Linked DNA regions of Homo sapiens. The protein of the gene in region 1 purifies or fractionates together with the protein of each later gene. This does not show direct contact. Each region holds a gene or a part of one and is shown in the gene's direction. Other genes may lie near its edges. The genes, in order: NUDT12, LAMTOR3, NCOA5, VWA8, FKBP15 and TARS2.

The links.
Region 2: the proteins of NUDT12 (region 1) and LAMTOR3 fractionate together in Homo sapiens (co-fractionation; one large-scale study listed by BioGRID). This does not show direct contact.
Region 3: the proteins of NUDT12 (region 1) and NCOA5 purify together in Homo sapiens (affinity purification with mass spectrometry; 3 studies listed by BioGRID and IntAct, with this or other methods). This does not show direct contact.
Region 4: the proteins of NUDT12 (region 1) and VWA8 purify together in Homo sapiens (affinity purification with mass spectrometry; 3 studies listed by BioGRID and IntAct, with this or other methods). This does not show direct contact.
Region 5: the proteins of NUDT12 (region 1) and FKBP15 purify together in Homo sapiens (affinity purification with mass spectrometry; 3 studies listed by BioGRID and IntAct, with this or other methods). This does not show direct contact.
Region 6: the proteins of NUDT12 (region 1) and TARS2 fractionate together in Homo sapiens (co-fractionation; one large-scale study listed by BioGRID). This does not show direct contact.

The regions. Positions count from the first base shown.
Region 1 is NC_000005.10:103,548,344-103,550,620, reverse strand, and holds the end of NUDT12 (NAD-capped RNA hydrolase NUDT12), read left to right. Parts: 3' UTR 1-1,766; downstream 1,767-2,277. UniProt on the Homo sapiens protein: mRNA decapping enzyme that specifically removes the nicotinamide adenine dinucleotide (NAD) cap from a subset of mRNAs by hydrolyzing the diphosphate linkage to produce nicotinamide mononucleotide (NMN) and 5' monophosphate mRNA.
Region 2 is NC_000004.12:99,877,831-99,881,185, reverse strand, and holds the end of LAMTOR3 (ragulator complex protein LAMTOR3), read left to right. Parts: 3' UTR 1-2,850; downstream 2,851-3,355. UniProt on the Homo sapiens protein: As part of the Ragulator complex it is involved in amino acid sensing and activation of mTORC1, a signaling complex promoting cell growth in response to growth factors, energy levels, and amino acids.
Region 3 is NC_000020.11:46,079,932-46,083,490, reverse strand, and holds part of NCOA5 (nuclear receptor coactivator 5), read left to right. Parts: intron 1-3,559. UniProt on the Homo sapiens protein: Nuclear receptor coregulator that can have both coactivator and corepressor functions.
Region 4 is NC_000013.11:41,884,610-41,888,168, reverse strand, and holds part of VWA8 (von Willebrand factor A domain-containing protein 8 isoform a precursor), read left to right. Parts: intron 1-807; coding exon 808-972; intron 973-1,338; coding exon 1,339-1,388; intron 1,389-2,140; coding exon 2,141-2,249; intron 2,250-3,559. UniProt on the Homo sapiens protein: Exhibits ATPase activity in vitro.
Region 5 is NC_000009.12:113,211,234-113,214,792, reverse strand, and holds part of FKBP15 (FK506-binding protein 15), read left to right. Parts: intron 1-3,200; coding exon 3,201-3,316; intron 3,317-3,559. UniProt on the Homo sapiens protein: May be involved in the cytoskeletal organization of neuronal growth cones. Seems to be inactive as a PPIase. Involved in the transport of early endosomes at the level of transition between microfilament-based and microtubule-based movement.
Region 6 is NC_000001.11:150,497,384-150,500,942, forward strand, and holds part of TARS2 (threonine--tRNA ligase, mitochondrial), read left to right. Parts: intron 1-146; coding exon 147-364; intron 365-1,118; coding exon 1,119-1,281; intron 1,282-1,513; coding exon 1,514-1,651; intron 1,652-1,832; coding exon 1,833-1,910; intron 1,911-3,559. UniProt on the Homo sapiens protein: Catalyzes the attachment of threonine to tRNA(Thr) in a two-step reaction: threonine is first activated by ATP to form Thr-AMP and then transferred to the acceptor end of tRNA(Thr). Also edits incorrectly charged tRNA(Thr) via its editing domain.

The DNA.
Region 1 (2,277 bases):
GTTTCTTTTCTTCCTTCACAGTTTTATCTCACAAAACCATTTTTCTAATAAGAGACATCATGTTGGAAAGATGTTCTAGAAATGTGCATAAATTTCAGTGCCTCTTGTAAGCATTAAACTGATGATGAAGAAAGTTCCTGATTTGAGAAATGAATCAAAGTAATTTTAATGAATTTTTAGCTTGTATTAGCTTGAGTTAGCTGGCATTGATTTTTTAGTCCTTTTGTTACCTTTAAGTTGTCAATATATGGTTTTTGTTCATCTCCCCATTGTAGTCCCACTTGCTCTTTCCTGGGGGTTCCATTGTTCTAGCAGTGGAGGTGTTATAGTGTCGCCACTCGTCTAATTTGACCAGTGTTAAGAATTTTCTAATTTAATAATTTAATAGTGATCTCAATACCACACCCTCATGGAAGGAGAAAAGCATACTATTATATCTGGGACCTCTCTTTTAGACCTAAAATTAATTAACATATCTACTTATATGTTACTTATACCTAAAGCTGTTATTAAGACAAACCAAGATTCTCTGCTTTTGCACTGAAATTAAACTTGAAAGGAATTCTCCTCAAAGGTCGGATATTAAATAAGTCCCAGGCAGATTTACATATTTAATTTAAAACATTGGCTTTATTTCATTTTGTGATGAGTGATGTATCTGTGTTAACAAAAAATTGTATAATCATTACCAATACTATTTATTATGCTCAAATATATCTTGGCTTTGACCTTATTTCAACACATTCTAAGAAGCCTTGACAAAGTAAGTATATTTTAGAGCTGAATCAGTAAGATTCTAGAGAAAGCAAAACATAGTAGTTCACAATTTTGCAACATAGAAAGTCACATTTTGAAAGGCTATTTTGAAATTGATTTAATAGCTATTATAGTTTATGAATATCAAAATTTGTATAATTTGCATCTTTACTAATGTATGCTAGAGCTACAAGAGACCTTAAGGATAATATATGAAATTAGCTTTCCTTATTTTATAGATAAGGAAAAAGAAATTGTGAAAGGTGAATTTACCTAATTAGTGAAAGTTACATAACTAATTACAACAGTCTGTACTATATAATGCAGAGGACGATTCTCCCTGTAAAAGGAACTAGAAGCTATTACTAAAAATATATATAGACAAAATTAAAAGAAGGAATGATAAGAATAAATTTAATTTACCAAATATTGTTAATTAAAATTTTAGATACTTAACATTTATTTAACTTAAATAAAAGATAACTGTCAGATAAAACTTTATTTTACTAATGAGCAGTGATTTTCTTAGGAATTGATGAAGGCTTATTGGTATCAAGAATTTAAACCAAATTAAAACTGACAGAGGACATTTAGATACATAATAAAATTCGAGCTACATAAGTATATGGAAAATAATGTACCTTGATTATTATGAAATAGAGCATCTTGAAATTCAGTTTTACTCTAAATGTACTTTTAATACTTGCAGATTCTAAGATTACATTGTAAAATTCCAGGTTTTCATAATGTTAAAATAGGAAAGTAGAATATAAAGTATCAACAAGTGTAGTTATACATTTTGTTTTGGATATTTAATCCTTACTTGGGAAAAAATCAGCATCTAGGTAAATTATTATTTTAATAACAACTCTTAAATTGCCAACCTCTGAGAGGTGAAAAGCTATGTAAATAGAAGGAATGGCCAGTTCAAAAGAATAGTAGATGTGATAGTGCCGTGAATGTATTCTACTGGAAATGAATGTAATAATACATTAAATTTTTAAAATCTATTTTGTTTTGTGTGTGTGTTTAACATGTTTTGACAAGTGTCCTGAAAAATGAGAAAAGCTGGATTTCAGTCGTTAACCTGTTTCGAATTGATAATGTACAAGAAATGCAAAAGCCTTTTTAAAAGTGTCTGTGTTTGGGAGACTTAAAACTTTGATTTGAATCTTAAAGTATAGTTTGGGGTCAAATACAAACAGACTTACATATATACATACATATATAAAGTCAATAATTTTTGTTCTTCAGGTTTAAAGCGATATATCTAATTTTTATTACTTGTCTAATACTGCTAATTGTTGGATTTTGATATTTTCACATGTTGATGGAACATGAAGAGTTAGAAGCCCACATATTTTATTTAGTTGGAAAAATGAGAAATTCTTTTAAAGACCCAGTTAGGGATTTGGCTGAAGACAGAAAATAATAGGATAACAAAGGGAGAGACCAAGATGGAAGGAGGAAGAATAAGTTTGTTAATAAGCCAAATTAATCCCACATAACAACAATAGATAG
Region 2 (3,355 bases), on another chromosome or scaffold:
CCTTTTTTTGTTCAGACTTTTTCCAAAAATCTAAACATAATTAATATACTCTTTCAGCCACATGAATAAATAATGAGTGTTTCTTGTAGGTATTGGTTTGGAGATTGTTTTACGGTAGTATGAACTGTTAACTGGAAAAGAAACCTGAGATTGCAGTCAGCCAAGATTGTGCCACTGCACCCCAGCCTGGGCAACAGAGACTCCGTCTCAAAAACAAAAAAGAAAAGAAACCAAGAAACCTCAGGCATGAACCTAATTTAATCTCCATGAAAGAGGTACTACAGTTCTAGAATATACCCTTTATGTTCAGGAATGCAGTCTATCATTCAGAGTTAATTTCTTTCTAGGCTCTTTGACAATCAGTTTTTCCCTGGATCAGTTCAGTACATATGCATTGAGCACCTGTGTGCCAGTCAGCCGAGCTATCACATTGCACAATTCTAAGAAGCACCATTCATGTCTCATCATATTTCTATGCTCTGGGAGTTGCCTTTCACATAGAATATGTGTGATTGTTATCCCTAGAATTGTGCAGTGAGGCAATTGGCTAGGTGCTGTGCTGCTTTTTCTTTCTTTCTTTTTTTTTTTAAGAGACAGAGTCTTGCTGTGTTGCCCAGTCTGGAGTGCAGTGGTGGCATGATCTTGCCTCACTGTAACCTCTGCCTCCTGGGTTCAAGCTGTTCTCATGCCCCATTCTCCCTTGTAGCTGGGATTACAGGCTTACACCATCGCACTTGGCAAATTTGTGTATTTTTAGTAGAGACAGGAATTCACCATGTTGGCCAGGCTGGTCTTGAACTCCTGACTTAAAGTGATCCACCTGCTTTGGCCTCCCAAAATGCTAGGATTATAGGTGTGAGCCACTGCACCGGGCCATGTGCTACTTTTTCTTCCTTCCATCCTTCCTCCCTTCTTCAGTGTAAATATGAGATTAATTTGTGATACCTTACTTTAAAGAACTTAGAGTTCAGTAAAGGAAGCAGGTATAGAAAGTGCTATGATAAAGCTATACATAGGATGGTATAGAACCACAGACTAGGGGCACTTAAAATGGGCAAGAAAATAGCCTTTGTAAATAAAATAGAGGCAAGAGATATAATGCTTTACCTGCAAAGAGCTATAAATACAGCCATGTACCATATAATGATGTTTCAGTTAGTGAAGGACCACATACGAGGGTGGTCAGAACAGCAGGCTATACCATATAGCCTAGGTGTGTAGTAGGCTATACCATATAGCCTAGGTGTGTAGTAGTAGGCTATACCATATAGCCTAGGTGTGTAGTAGTAGGCGATACCATATAGCCTAGGTGTGTAGTAGTAGGCTATACCATATAGCCTAGGTGTATAGTAGTAGGCTATACCATATAGCCTAGGTGTGTAGTAGGCTATACCATATAGCCTAGGTATGTAGTAGTAGGCTATACCATATAGCCTAGGTGTGTAGTAGTAGGCTATACCATCTGGGGTTCCTGTCAGTACAGTATGATGTTCACATAATGATGAAATCACCTAACAAAGCATGTCTCGAAATGTATCCACATTGTTACGTAACACATGACTGTAGTTAATTGTTACAATTGAAATACTAGATGTACTCATTGAAATCCAGAATTCCCATTATCTGGATTATTTAATATCGTTCAGGAAATTTTTGCCAGTGCAATGGTGCATGAAACAATGTCTTTTAGAAATGAGGTGGCCAGATTTCTATTTGCAGATAATAATTGTATATCTAAAAATCCTAGAAAAAGAAATGATAACAAATGGAGCTACTTAACCTTTACATGTTGAATGCTGCCACTGTTAAAATTTCTGAGGGGGTATAATAGATAAACTATCCCATAGTTCATCTGGAAAAATAAGGTGGTGAAAATTGCTAAGAAATTTTTGAAAGGGTAATGTAAACCTAGATTAACTGTTTTTGAAAGGTAGTACAGAACTGAATGCACAACTAGATATCAATGGTATGTACTCACCCAGAAAAAAGACTTCAGTACATACATGTGAGGGCTTAAAACATTGTTATAAAGACGGGATCACAATGGGAAAAGGATTATTCAATAAGTAGGGCAGGCATTCTCTATGCCTGCTAGGGAAGTGTGACTTGTTATACTCTTTATGTACAGCAATTGGCAGTCTGTGAAACTTTTAAATTCATATACATAACCTTTTGCCCTGCAATTCCACTTCTAGAAATTTATCCTACCAAACAAAGCACATAGATGTGCAAAAGTATGTATTTACAAGTATATTCTTTGCAACTTGGTAATGTCAAAGAATTGGAAGCAACCTAAATATCTGCCATAGGTAGGATAACCATATGCTTTGGCTTTTTGAACACTACCAGTTTATACCTGCTGTTCTTGGATAATTATTAATAGTGCTTTCATTCTCAATGTCTCACTTTAGATAATAAATTACAGAGGATTGGTGAAACTAATTTGCCCAATGGAAAAAGGAATGAAGAAGTGCTTTAGGTACTGAGATGAAAAGATCTCTAAGGCATAATAATGTTTATTGAGAAAAGCATGGTGTCAAACTGTATGGCATGCTACAATTGATGTATAAGAAGAAAAAATGTGTATGTATTCCTATTTGTTTGTATATGGTAGACTGTCTCTGAAGACATATATGGAAGAACCTGATCACATTGGTAGTCTCCAAGGAGCAGAACTAGATACCTGGGGGATAAGGATCCCAGGAGTGAGCCTTTTCATTGTAAACTTCATTGTACTTTGAGTTTTTAACTGTTCAAAAATAATAAAATTAGAAATAAAATATTTCAACAAACAATAAAATGGGATATTTGGGGAAGAAAGTTGTCTCAGGGCTCTCCAAAGAAGCAGAACCGGTTGGACATATGTGTATTTATTTCAAGGAAATGGCTTATACTATTGCGGGGACTGGCAAGTCTAACATCTGTTGGACGGGCCAGAAGACTGAAAAGTCTCAGGTAGGAGCTGAGGCTGCAGTTTCAGAGCAGAAGTTCGTCCTCTTGGAAACTTCAGTTTTGCTCTTAAAGCCTTTCAGTTGATTGGATGAGTCTCACCCACATTATGGAGGATTATCTCTTTTACTTAAATTTAAGGGATTATAAATGTTAAGTACATCTCCAGAATACATCCACAGCAGTACCTGGATTCATGTTTTAATAACTAGGCAATGTGTCCTAGCCAAGTTGATGCATAAAACTAACGTTCACAGTCCATTCCTAGTCAGCTTGGCACCTGTATGCATCTTTTTTGTTGTTTTTTGTTTTGTGAGACAGAGTCTCACTCTGTCACTTAGGCTTGAGTGCTGTGGCCTGATCTCAGCTCACTGCAACCTCTGCCTCCTGGGTTAAAGCGAGTCTC
Region 3 (3,559 bases), on another chromosome or scaffold:
GAATAGGGCAACACCTCATTCTATAAAATAGAACAAGTGTTCCAATGAGCTGAGCAGAGGCGTTTGGCTTTATAAACAGAGAAGGGAGCTGAGGAAAGCAGAGACAAGGAGCAAAAAGCGGATTGGTCATTTCAGAGTTACTTTTCTTGTGAAGGGTAAAGCAGTGCAGACTTCCTTTTCATGCTGGCTAAAACTGGCCTATTTGTGGTTTTGGCCATTATTTATCTCCTGATTTCGCAGAACGTCAGGAAAAGATCTTTGTCTTGGCTTGATAGCGTGGAACTTCATCATGAATTTGGTTTGGTCTTTGGGCCTAGTTCAGGAGCTCAGTCCAAAGCAATGGCCTCCTGGAAATTTTCTTTGACACCGCTCTTGTTATTCCTAGTCCTCATTGTTTTCTGTGGCTGTAGCTTATGAACTATAAAATCTGGTTTTAAGGTGAAAAGAGTTGTTTTATGATTGTACAATTAAAAAATAAGTAGAACAAAGTAGTTTTTGGTACTGTGAGTGAAAGAAACATGCATTTTTATTTATAGCATTATCCAAGGACCATTTTGTGACCCCTGTCTGGCATATTAGTCTAAAATAAAATTGTGGATTAGATATTGTATATTTTGGGAGTTCTTCACCCCATCCTTTTGTAGTTTATAATGGTTCTGCCATTTCCAGCATGTTTTCTAGATTATTTTCCAGTTCTTTTCCTTGTATGTAAAGCTCTTTTTCTTGTCTAAAAATTCTTAACTGAGAAGTGCTTTTAACTGTTTTCAGACCACCACTTGGACACTATAGATATTCAGGCCAAGATAAAGCACTTCATGGTGATTATGATGATTTTGAATGGCATTCACATTGCTAGTATAATTAACAAAGTATAGAAGTATCACCCAAACTGAAGTGGAGAAGACACTGAGAGATGACTTTTGGTCTTAAGGGCAGTTGGCCAGAATAAAGTATAGCAGAAGGGGAAAGAAGTACCGTTTCTTCCCTTTTCTATTCAGAGGAGACATTAGACCTCTCCTTGGAAGAGATTCCCAAGTTGCCACTTCCCTCTTGTTGATTAATTTTTCTCCAACCAGAGTTCCCCATCTGATGTCCAGAAAGATCTCCAAATTGTCTTTCTACCTTTTTTTCCCTTCTTTACATTAACACCATTTCTATTTGCTTGGTGTTGATTATATCTCTCTATAAGGATTTAGGAGAAAATAATCTGATTATTTAATACAAAATAAAACTATAGATTAGATACTGTGTCTTTCTTTGGGAATTCTTCACCCCATTCTTTTGTGGTTTAAAACAGTTCTGTCATTTCCTACATGTTTTCTGGATTATTTTCTGGTTTCTTCCTTTTATGTAAAGCCGTGAGTTGGTGCTTTAGCATTCTCAATATTTGCATTTTCAAAGAAAATCTTTTTTAAATGAACCCTCTGCTTCCAACTGACAGGTTTTCAAATTCTGTGACAAAAAAAATAGGATGAGGGAAGTTTTTTCTTGACTTCTTGAATCTTTGCTCTCCGTGATTAGTTCCTTAAAGTTATTTATTCTTCTGTATTTCTGAACTCATGGATTTCCCAAAAGTTCTATGTGCACATGTGTTAGGATTTTTTGGGTGTATGGGGATTGGCAGTAATGTTGGTGGTTGTGTTTTTACAACTCTCACTGAAAACTCCCCAGCCCTACCCTAATCTGAGCAATTCTATTAGATAGGAAAAAAAAAAAAATCCAGGTCTCATTTTCTCCATACGTCAGCCCAGATGGAAATTTAAGGAACTCTTAAATAGAGATGAATAAACAGATACTTGACATACTACACTAAAAGTTTACTAAACCCTAAAATGAGACAATTATCTGAGAATTCTTGTTTTTGCAGAAGAAACATCCCATGCTGTCAAATATAAATACTTTGGACTACCCAATGAAAATAGATACTACGAGGCAAATTACAATCAAAATGGTTTAAAGATATAATCTTGAATATTCTTTAATCTTTTAAGTAATTACAAAACGATTCCACCAGCTTCAAAGTAAAATATTTATGTCCTTCATTCTAACTAGAACTGGTTTTGTTCCAAAGATATAGTATACATGACCATGTGATTTCTCCAGTTCTGTATGTAGATGCTCACGAAACTGGCTATAATTATACAGTGTAATATTCCTTTTCATATGTAGAGAGCAAATTATTGGTAATAGAAACCTACCAATTAAAGTAATACTATATGTGTTGTACTCTTAACCTGAATGTTTGCCAGGTCTAGTCAGTGTTTAGATGTGAGTTTCCTTTATTCACAAGACCATTTAATAATATATGAACTCCTGCTGAAGTTATGTTATGTATATTTTTTATCTTAATACACACCCAGTGTATTCCAGAGACACCTTGAAAACTACTTAAAATACTCAAAGATATTATATTTCTCTCTGAATCATAGCCAACCTATATAATTAGAAAGTGGTACACAGTAAGTGAACAGACTCAGTAAGTCATAAACCTGAACTAGTATTCTTCACAATTACGTATAATAGAACTAGATATTCCCTATAAGGCCTGTCATTATATAATTTGTAATTTAGACCATTATAAACTTTAAGAGTTGTAAATTGTGAAAGTACTGCATGCAGTAGCAAAGCTATGGTCAGATATTACTGGCCAAGTCTTACATAGAAAATATTTTCAGGTTTTTTTTAAAATAGAAGGATTATATCTTGTGTCTGCTTAATTGAAAAGGTAAGAATCAATTTAAGATATACTTCACTATTTAGCTTTATATTATTTTCAGTTTTGTCAGAAGCCATTTTTCTAGACAAATTAGAGACTTCTGATTTAAAATGGAATTGAAGATTACCTTCATTTGATCAGGAACTCAAAAGTTGGCAAAATAGCAGCATAAAATCTCTACCAGACCTCTAAGTTTCTTGTTATTGCTGTGGTCTTTCATGTGATAGGAATCTGGTTGGGATTTTTAAAATACATAATTATTATTTTAAAGCACTCGAATTATGTGAGTACTTAATACCATTTGATGTCATTAGATACACTATTAATTGTTTAATACGGAAAAAGGGGAACAAACTCTACTGCAGCAGAAAGCACTTTTATTTCTTCATTCATCTGAAGTATGAAATTTGTAATGTATTTATTTAGCTTTAAGTCATATGAAAACTGTCAGGTATTATTTTGGGGCATAGATTTCTTAGTACATGGTATTTATTATTCACTTCAATTTTTGTAAAGCAGGTATTCTTGGTTTTTAGCAAAGCAGGCTTTAGCTATACAAATTTGCTTTTCTTTAAGCTTATGTGATTCTACTTTTCTCCCATATCTAGTTCTATACGCCAGCCTTCTCTAATGAAAACAACTTAGGAGGAGTGTTTTATTACCTAACCCTACTATACCAAACGCCAGTCCTTATTCTTGGTTATCTGTAGATGTTAACAGGTCATATTCTTTGTTTATTAAAAATAATAATAATAATTTTCTTTCCTGCATGTTATTCTGGAAGATTCTATCCAGTGGAATTCAACACAAGACACACTAACAGGAGGCCCTGCTTCATGGGAT
Region 4 (3,559 bases), on another chromosome or scaffold:
ACTTGTTTGCACATACATTTACACATTTAGTTTTCCTAGCAGTCACAATAATGTAGGTGATATTTTTCCTACTAAGAAGGCTAAGGTTCCAAAGGTATAATACCATGCATACGCTAACATTTAGTAAAAGTGTACATCAAGCAGTTGAGCCAGGATTTGTGACTCTAAAACCCATACTGTTTCCATTCTCTAAGCTCCACTGTATGCTAGTTGCAGGACGATGGGCAAGTTATATAACTCCTTTGAACTTTGATTCATTCATTCATATAAAAAGGAGATAGTCTATATTGGATTCTGGTGAAAGTTAAATGAGAAAAATCCATGGAATGTGCTTACCACATAGTAAGTTTCCAAAACATGTTAGTTATTGCTAGTAATATGCTTTGCTAGGAATAACCATAAACATAATTATCTATTTAAGGTCCACTGGTAATCAATCACAGCTTTGCTGGTGATCTGCCCGTCGGGGACTACCTTTGTTACAACCTCTAGTCATGTATTTTCCTTACCCCCTGACTGTTTTCCTCTGTGTTACTGACTAAGGCTTGGAGATCTGACCCAAGTCTCCTTTATTCCTTGGTGTGTTAACTGCTTTTCCTTTCAAACACCCCAGTCTTCATGTTGTGAGCCTGCCCTGGCATCCTGAACCTGATTTCACTTTGCTGCCTTCCTTGACAGTATGGATTTGAGAGTGTTCTCCAATACAGTTTTCTCAACAGTCAAGTCCTAAGTCCCTGGACTTGGCAGCTCTTACAGTTGTGATTTGTATCATTTATGCTATAGCTTCCGGATCTCTTACTTTTATAGGATCATACCAAAAAAGAGTTGGATTCTTGGAAAATTGTCCGAGTTAGTGAAAATTTCCGAGTGATTGCCTTGGGCTTGCCAGTGCCAAGGTATTCTGGGAATCCATTAGACCCCCCTCTTCGTTCTCGATTTCAAGCCAGGGATATTTATTATTTACCCTTCAAGGTAAGTAAGACCAAGGATAATTTATTTGTTAAACAGTTTTTCTATTTATAACAAGAACTTCAATGCTATAAAAATGTTACTGCAGTTTTGAATGTCTTCCTGAGTAGGTCATGGAAAGATATGAGAATAAAGAGTAAAGAAAAGCTCTGGAAACTAGGAAGAAAAATTATTATGGCATTATTTGAAGGATTTTTTTTAAAAGGCTGGCTTTTCTTTTAGAAAATGAAATGTATCAATAAATGATTTTTTGCTGTTAAATATTTAGTGTCTGCTTAATTAAAAGGTTGGATTGTATCTACAAAACATTTGCATTTAATCTGTTACATTTCTTGTTAATTAATTTAATATGTTTCTGTATTACTTTAGGACCAACTTAAGTTGTTATATTCAATTGGAGCCAATGTTTCTGCTGAGAAGTAAGTATATTTTTATAAATGTCTGGACACTGAATATTGAATTTGTTTTGCCTGTTCATTGATTGATTGATTAATTAATTCAGTCATTCAACAACTAGAATTCTTATAAGAATTTTTCAGTATTAGGATGTTTGGTGATAAAATTAATAAGATATCTTTGGCAGGAAACTCAAGATCTAATAGAGTTGAAAGATATGTGAATAGCTTTGGTTAACATGGTATAGTAAGTGCCATAATTTGAAAATATTTGGGGGCATTAGTTGAGACTTTATAAGGGCTTCATAAAAGCATTGGTGTTTGAAATGGGTCCTAAATAATGAGCAAGTTTTTGCCAGATAGAGAGTGGAATCAAGAAATTCGAACACAACAAGTGTTTTTTTTTTGTTTTGTTTGTTTGTTTGTTTTAAAAGCATGGAATGTGAGAGTTTATGCCTTGTTTTTAGGGCCATAAAAAACTCTTGGAGGCTAGAGTTTAGGTTTGGGATTACGAAATGTGAGAGATGAGGCTGGCAGGGTAGATTTGGACCAGGTGGTGAAAAACCTCAAATATTGTGATGAATTTAGGAATATATTTGCATCTAATCAGCTTCTGAGTTTTAAGTAGGATATTATGATGCGGAACCATTGTTCCTTAAGAATTAATATTAGGGATCTTTTTTAGATTAATTAAATTGGCCCCTGTATTTTATATTTAACAACTTACACATTTTATATTTTAAAACTATTAAAATTTAATATCATTTTTCCCTTAGAGTTTCTCAGCTCTTGTCCTTTGCCACAACTCTGTGTTCCCAAGAATCTTCTACTCTTGGACTTCCAGACTTTCCTTTAGATAGTTTAGCAGCTGCGGTTCAAATCTTGGTAAGTAAAATAAATTAATGACTGGCATACCCAAATATGTTAAAAATTTTGAAAGTTAATCATTAGGGATTAATGACTTCAGTTTGCTTTTGTCATACTCTTCTATAAATATTGTAAGGCCTGAGATTAATTTGTTGTGCAGTGCAGTAAACTGTACAGAGACCAAGGACATGTTCTGAGCCCCTAAAGAGCTTTCAGCTTTGGAGTAGGAGCTAGACATGCAATCTCAGTAAAGTTCTACAGAGGGAAGGAAGGCTTTAGCCTGATCAAGTAAGAGGTGTGCTGCAGTGTGAGTTAGGCCTCAGAGCTGTCCTTACCTGAGTTAGGGGAGCTAGGGCTTTCACACTGTTCTAGCTTCCATCAGTCTCTGTGTCATGGTTGTCTCAGGGGACACAAATTCCCAGACACTAACTGCTCTCCCAGCATGTGTGCAAGGGTGGCTTCAAGAGCCCAAGGATCGTCTTCTTAGAAAGACCTACAGCAATTGCTGTTGGAAGAGAAAGCTAGGAGGCACAAGAGAGAATGCAAACAGATCTGAGGGGATCTGATAGAGTACAGACATTGTCCACTACAGTTTCACAAAGGGCATGGCGGTCATGTCTGGAGTGATAAAAGGCCCAGGAAGTCAAAGCACAGGCAAATGTGTTTAATCACAAAAGGGCCTAGTATCTTTGGAGAATGAGAATAAGTTGTATCCCTAAAGCAAGTGTGTGTGGTAGAGGGAGAAGTCAGACCGCTATTGTGAAATGTTTTGCATGATGAATGAAGTTTCCTGGATTTTATGATATGGAAAAAGTGGCTTATCAGACAATATTAAGTTGGTGGGCTATGAATGTGACCAGACTTATGTTGGAGGAAGACACCTTTGTTGGAAGTGAGGGAATGACTAGGAAGCTTTTGTAACACTCAGTGAGACCCTGTGGAGGAGGGCACCATCCAAGATAGTGGGAATACTATCTTAGGCAAGAGACTTATTTTTAAACTTGTATGTATGTATGTATGTATGTATGTATGTATGTATGTATGTATATATGTATGTTTCATGTGAGTCAGGGAGCCTAGGTATTGTTGACATTGTTCTATACATCCAGAACAGAATTTCTCCTCCTGTTTATCAAATCTTATACTTTTATCAAATCTTTTTGTTTTTGCTTAGAACATTTTATTTTGAAAATTCTTATGAAATCTTTTGTTTTTGCTTAGAACATTTTACTTTGAAAATTCTCAAATGTAAAAAAAAGTTGAAAAACAGTAAAACATTCATAATCCCCTCACCTACAATCACCCATTATTAATATATTGCCACATTT
Region 5 (3,559 bases), on another chromosome or scaffold:
GTGGCTACACCAAACAACGGATTTTCAGTGTAGACAAAACAGCTTTCTATTGGAAGAAGATCTAGGACTTTCATGGCTAGAGAGGAGAAGTCAATGCTTGGCTTCAAAACTTCAAAGGACAGGCTTAACTCTTATTAGGGGATAATGCAGCTGGTGACTTAAAGTTGAAGCCGTTGCTCATGTACCATTCCAAAAATCCTAGGGCCCTTAGGCATTATGCTAAATTTACTCTGCCTGTGCTCTGCAAATGGAACAAAGCCTGGATGACAGCACATCTGTTTATAGCATAGTTTACTGAATATTTTAAATGCACTGTTGAGACCCACTGTTCAGAAAAAAAAAGCCTTCTTTCAAATTATTACTGCCCATTGACAGTGTACTTGGTCACTCACAAACTCTGATGGAGATGTATAAGATTAATGTTGTTTTCATGCCTGCTAACACAACATCCATTCTGCACCTCAGATCAGGTCTTACCATTTAAGAAATACATTTCATGGCTAAGCACAGTGGCTCACACCTGTAATCCCAGAACTTTGGGAGGCCAAGGTGGGTGGATCACTTGAGCCCAGGAGTTCAAGAGCAGCCTGGGCAACATGGTGAAACCCTGTCTCTACAAAAAATATAGAAATTAGCCAGGTTTCTTGGTGCATGCCTGTAGTCCCAGCTTCTTGAGAGGCTGAGGTGGGAGAATCCCTAGAGTGTGGTGGTGCATGCCTGTAGTCTCAGCTATTTGGGAGGCTGAGGTGGGAGGATTGGTTGAGCCCTGGAGGCAAAAGCTGCAGTGAGCCATGAACGCCCCACTGCACTCTAGCCTGGTGACAGATTGAGACCCTGTCTCTAAAAAAAAATTGTTTTAAAGAGTTAACACAGCAAGCCTGAGACTATTATTCCTAAAAAGCCCTGCTTACAAGGTTGGCTCTTGGCTGATATCTTAGTCTGTTTTCTGTTGCTTATAACAGAATACCTAAAGTGTGATAAAGAAAAGGAATTTATTTTTTACAGTTATGGAGGCTGAGAAGTTCAAGGTCAGAAGGGCTGCATGTGGTGAAGGTCTTCTTCTTGGTAGGAACTCTCTGCAGGGTCCTGAGATGGCATGGGGCATCACATGGCAAGCATACTAGCTCAGATCTTTCTTCCTCTTCTTATAACGCCACCAGTCTCATTCCCATGACATTTATGATAATCTAGTAATCCTTTTTTTTTTTTTGGTTCGGGGGAGACAGGGTCTTGCTCTGTCACCTAGGCTGTAATGCAGTGACATGATCATAGCTCACTGTAGTCTCAAACTCCTGGGCTCAGTTGAGCCTCCTGCCTCAGCCTCTCAAGCCGCTAGGACTCCAGGCGTTTACCACCAAGACTGGATAATTTTTTTTTTTTTTGGAGACGGAGTTTCGCTCTCGTTGCCTAGGCTGGAGTGCAGTGGCGTGATCTCAGCTCACTGCAACATCTGCCTCCTTGGTTCAGGCGATTCTCCTGCCTCAGCCTCCCGAGTAGCTGGGATTACAGGTGCGTGCCACCACGCCCGGCTAATTTTTGTACTTTTAGTAGAGATAGGGTTTCACCATGTTGGTCAGGCTGGTCTCGAACGCCTGACCTCAAGTGATCCTCCCATCTCAGCCTCCCAAAATGCTGGGATTACGGGTATGAGCCACTGTGCCCAGCCGACCTGTGCACTTTTTATTTTTGCTGATTTTTCTGTATATTTTTTTGTAATAGATCTTAGCCATGAGTACCACTATATGCTGAGACCATTGAGTCCTTCTCTAGAATCCTTGAACCTGGCAGTGGTCTTGGAGCACAAAAGGAAGAACAGGTTTTGCTGGGGCAGTGGGCATTGGAGGATATGAGTTCTGGTTTGGACATGTTACATTTGTATTGCCTGTGGGATATCTATGTTTTCTGGCACTCAAGAGCAAGTTCTGGGCTGGGAATGCAGATTTGAGCATCACCAGCATTTGGATAGCATTTGATACCAAGGTAAATGAGTACAGAGAGACAGTATGAAACCCTACCAAGGGAGAGAAAGTATGAAGCCCTGGAGACATGGACATTTAAAGATTGGGCAAATGAAGAAGAAGAGCCCAAGGGGTTAAAGAGAAGCCAGAGAAATGGGGCAAAACAAGCCAGGGATTGCATTAGTATTTATTGATATCTTATTTGGACCTGTTCCTTCCACAACCCCTGCAGAAGTCAAGAGAAGAATTTGAAGAAGAACAAGTTAATTGACAGTATAAAAAGGTGGTATGAGGTGAAATAAGGACTGGTAAACTGGGGTTAGTAGCAAAGAAGTTGTTGGTGATCGGATGGGCCTGGTGGCTCACACCTGTAATCCCAGCACTTTGGGAGGCCGAGGTGGGTGGATCACTTGAGGTCAGGAGTTCGAGACCAGCCTGGCCAGCATGGTGAAACCCCGTCTCTACTAAAAATACAAAAATTAGCCGGGTGTGGTGACACGCGCCTGTAGTCCCAGCTACTTGGGAGGCTGAGGCAGGAGAATCACTTGAACCTGGGAAGCGGAGGTTGCAGTGAGCCGGGATCACACCACTGCACTCCAGCCTGGGCAACAGAGTGAAACTCCATCTAAAAAAAAACAAAAACAAACAAAAAAATTTTTAGTGATTTTAGCAAGATCAGTTTCAGTGGAATGGTGGGGGATAAGATTTCTTGCAAGGGATGATGAAAGAATGGTTCTGTTAGATGAAAGGATGGCAGGGACCATGTTTGATGGGTAAGTTTGTATCATAGCTTCATTTCAATTGAATAAACTAGTAAAAAGCAGGAGGGGGAGTAGTCAGTAAGGGTGACTAGAAACTGTGATTTGCTAAAAGCAAGAATTTACAGTTTGAAGATACCATAGAGAGCACCTGAACTAGTCACTTCAGTTTATAGGTGGAAAAACTGAGGTCCAGAAAAAAGAAATGCCTTGACCAAGGTCCTGGGGATAAACAGGGTCAACTGATGATGTTCAAATCACATACACAATCTTGATTTCAAAGACACTTTGCTGTGTCCAATATTTTTATTTATTTTTTTTTTTAATTTTTAAATCAGCTTTCCTAGCTTGAAGTGTTTCTAGTATTGAATGGTGGGATGTAGTCAAGGAGGTATTTGTTCAAGGTTGGAGATGAGCAGCTTTTATAATAATTCCAGGTTTGGGATATATCAGTGAAATTTCATTTTTCATTTTCTACTAACAGTGCCAGATTGGCCTCACTTTTTGGACTGGATCAGGCAGCTGCTGGCCATGGAAATGAATTTTTCCAGTACACAGCCCCAAAACAGCCTAAGAAAGGCCAGGGAACGGCAGCAACAGGTAAGTTAAGAGTGTATTAGCCGAGCGAGGTGGCTAATGCCTGTAATCCCAGCACTTTGGGAGGCCGAGGCCGGTGGATCACCTGAGGTCAGGAGTTTGAGACCAGCCTGGCCAAGATGGCAAAACCCCATCTCTAAAAAAAATACAAAAATTAGCCAGGTGTGGTGGCGTGTGCCTGTAATCCCAGCTACTAGGGGGGCTGAGGCCGGAGGATCTCTTGAACCCAGGAGGCAGAGGTTGCAG
Region 6 (3,559 bases), on another chromosome or scaffold:
GGGGAGCATAGAGATGGGACCTGGTATTTAATAGGTTGTGGTTGCAATCAGCATGGCCTGAGGGCCCAGGAAGATCACACAGCTGACACCCTACCTGCTTTCCTTCCAGTTACTCTGACCTTCCATGTCTGTACCCTCCTCTCCAGGCTGAGTATGCCCATCGTGGTTTCTCCGAGGTGAAAACTCCCACACTGTTTTCTACGAAGCTCTGGGAACAGTCAGGGCACTGGGAGCATTATCAGGAAGACATGTTTGCCGTGCAGCCCCCAGGCTCTGACAGGCCTCCCAGCTCCCAGAGTGACGATTCTACCAGGCATATCACAGATACACTCGCCCTCAAGCCTATGAACTGCCCTGCACACTGGTAAGCTGGGAGCTAGGGTTACAATCAGGTTGCTAAATATTAAATAATAGAAAGCACCTTGGGGCCGGGCACGGTGGCTCACGCCTGTAATCCCAACACTTTGGGAGGCCGAGGCGGGCGGATCACCTGAGGTCGGGAGTTTGAGACCAGCCTGACCAACATGGAGAAACCCTGTCTCTACTAAAAATACAAAAAATTAGCCGGGCACGGTGGCGGGCGCCTGTAGTCCCAGCTACTCAGGAGGCTGAGGCAGGCTAATGGCGTGAACCCAGGAGGTGGAGCTTGCAGTGAGCCGAGATCGCGCCACTGCACTCCAGCCTGGGTGACACAGCGAGACTCCATCTCAAAAAAAAAAAAAAAAAGAAAGCACCTTGGAAAGAGTATTGGGACACCGATTTGAGCCTACAGTCTTCCCCCTAGCTAACCATGTAAATTTGGGAAACTCATTTTACCTCTTTAGGTCTCAGTCTCCTTAAAGTTGCTATCTAAGGCTCCTCCTTCAGCTCAGTGACCATCACAGAACAGGGAAATGGTAAACGATGTCTGTTATTGTGTTACTGAGAAATCCACTTTTGAACCTCAGGGCTCAGACTGTGATGAGTGGGATTGACAGGACTCAGTGGGAGGATGTGCTGAGGCTGGAGAGGGTTATAGCAGATGGTGCAGAGAAAGTAGGCAAGCAGATTGGGTGGAGGAGCAGTCTTCGGGGGCTAGTCCTCCCTATGGCCCTGACCCCTCTGCACCCCAACCTCAGCCTGATGTTCGCCCACCGGCCCAGATCCTGGCGGGAACTGCCCCTGCGACTAGCTGACTTTGGGGCTCTACACCGGGCCGAAGCCTCTGGTGGTCTGGGGGGACTGACCCGACTGCGGTGCTTCCAGCAGGATGACGCTCACATCTTCTGTACAACAGATCAGGTGGCCTTTCCCTGGCTCCACCAAAGCTTTTCTAAACCACCTTTCTTTCTCCCTATGAACCTGCAAACCCCTGATCTTTATTTGCCCCCTGTATGTACTATAATTCAGCTACATTCTACCCCCAGCTTGCTTCCGCTTCCTCTCTGTTTTTGCCCTTTGTTTTCCTCAAACTGCCAGCATCCCTGATCTCTAGCGGGCTCACAGCTCACTGACCCTTATTTCCTGCCCCTAGCTGGAAGCAGAGATCCAAAGCTGTCTTGATTTCCTCCGTTCCGTCTATGCCGTTCTTGGCTTCTCCTTCCGCCTGGCACTGTCCACCCGGCCATCTGGCTTCCTGGGGGACCCTTGCCTTTGGGACCAGGCCGAACAGGTGAGTAGGAGGTAGAGAAATAGAGGCAGATAAACCACTCTCTGGTGGGAAGGAGTGGAGAATACAGTAATCAAGGTTCTCAGAGGCATCTGGTGAGTGGGTCATTTGTTGGGGACTGACCGGATGTGTTGCTTTTGAAGTCTAAGATGATGTATTCCACTCTTGTCTCATTCCTTCAAAGGTCCTTAAACAGGCCCTGAAGGAATTTGGAGAACCCTGGGACCTCAACTCTGGAGATGGTGCCTTCTATGGACCTAAGGTAAGCTTGGGACCCTGGTTAGTGTTGTATTTATTTATTTTTTGCTTTGTTTTAGTAAATATTTAATAGATACAAAGAATTTTTTTTTTTGAGACAGTCTCACTCTGTCACCCAGGCTAAAATGCAGTGGTGTGATCTCAGCTCACTGCAACCTCCAGCTCCCTGGTTCAAGCAATTCCCCTGCCTCAGCCTCCCGAGTAGCTGGGATTACAGGTGTACGCCACCACACCCGGCTAATTTTTTTGTATTTTTAATAGAGATGGGGTTTCGCCATGTTGGCCAGACTGGTCTCGAACTCCTGACCTCAGGCAATCCACCCCACTTGGCCTCCCAAAGTGCTGGGATTACAGGCGTGAGCCACCGCACCCGGCCACAAAGAAATATTTTTAAACTTACGTAGGATATAAAGAAAAACAATATACTTTCTGCCCTCTTGGCATCTGCAATCTAGTGAGGGCTGCTGAAGGTAAATAGGCCATATCAGTGCTGCGAGATCTGTGCTGTGTAGGTACCAAGAGAGCACGTTAGCTGGGGTTAGCATTACTCGGGGAGGTTACAAAAGGTGTCCTGCAGGAATCACTTTCCAATCTGAAAGGTGAGTGTTGGCCAAGTAAAGATGTGTTTCAGGAGGGAACAGTGTAGGCAGAGGCTGGGGATAAGGATGAAAACACATGGCAGACCAATCTGGGCAACACAGGGAGACCCTGTGTCTACCAAAAAAAAAAAAAAAAATTAGCCGGGTGCAGTAGCTTGTGCCTGTGGTCCCAGCTACCCAGCAGGCTGAGATGGGAGGATCACCTGGTCCCAGGAGGTAGAGGCTGCAGTGAGCCGAGATTGCGCCCCACTGCACTCCAGCCTGGGTGATAGAGTGAGACCCTGTCTCAAAAAAAAAGAAGCCAAGGGGAAAAAAGGACTGAAAAGTGTCCACTGGATTTAGTAAAAAGGCTGCTGGATTTCAAAGGACCATTTTCAGTAAAGTAGGGCCTGAGGGTGGAGTTAGAAGATGAATAAATGAGGCCTGTGTGGTGGCTCACGCCTGTAATCCCAGCACTTTGGGAGGCCGACGTGGGTGGATCACTTGAGGTCAGGAGTTCGAGACCAGCCTGGCCAACGTGGCGAAACCCCATCTCTACTAAAAATATAAAAATTGGCCGGGTGAGGTGTTAGGACACACCTGTAGTCCCAACTACTCAGTAGCCTGAGGCAGGAGAATCGCTGAACCTGGGAAGTTGCAGTGAGCCAAGATCACACCACTGCACCCTAGCCTGGGCAACAGAGCAAGACTCCGTCCCAAAAAGTAAAAATAAAACAGGCTGGGGGCGGTGGCTCACGCCTATAATCCCAGCACTTTGGGAGGCTGAGGCAGGTGGATCACCTGAGGTCAGGGGTTTGAGACCCTGTCTCTACTAAAAATACAAAAATTAGCCCAGCGTGGTGACAGGCACCTGTAAACCCAGGAGGCGGAGGTTGCAGTGAGCCGAGGTCGCACCACTGCACTCCAGCCTGGGCGACAGAGTGAGGCTCCATCTCAGAAAAATAATAATAAAATGAAAAATAAAATAAATGCTATGATGAGAGGAAGTCTATTTGGAGGGAGAAGTTGTTGTAAAGGGAAGTTCCTGGAGAGGTTTAAGGTAGGATTGAGAAGC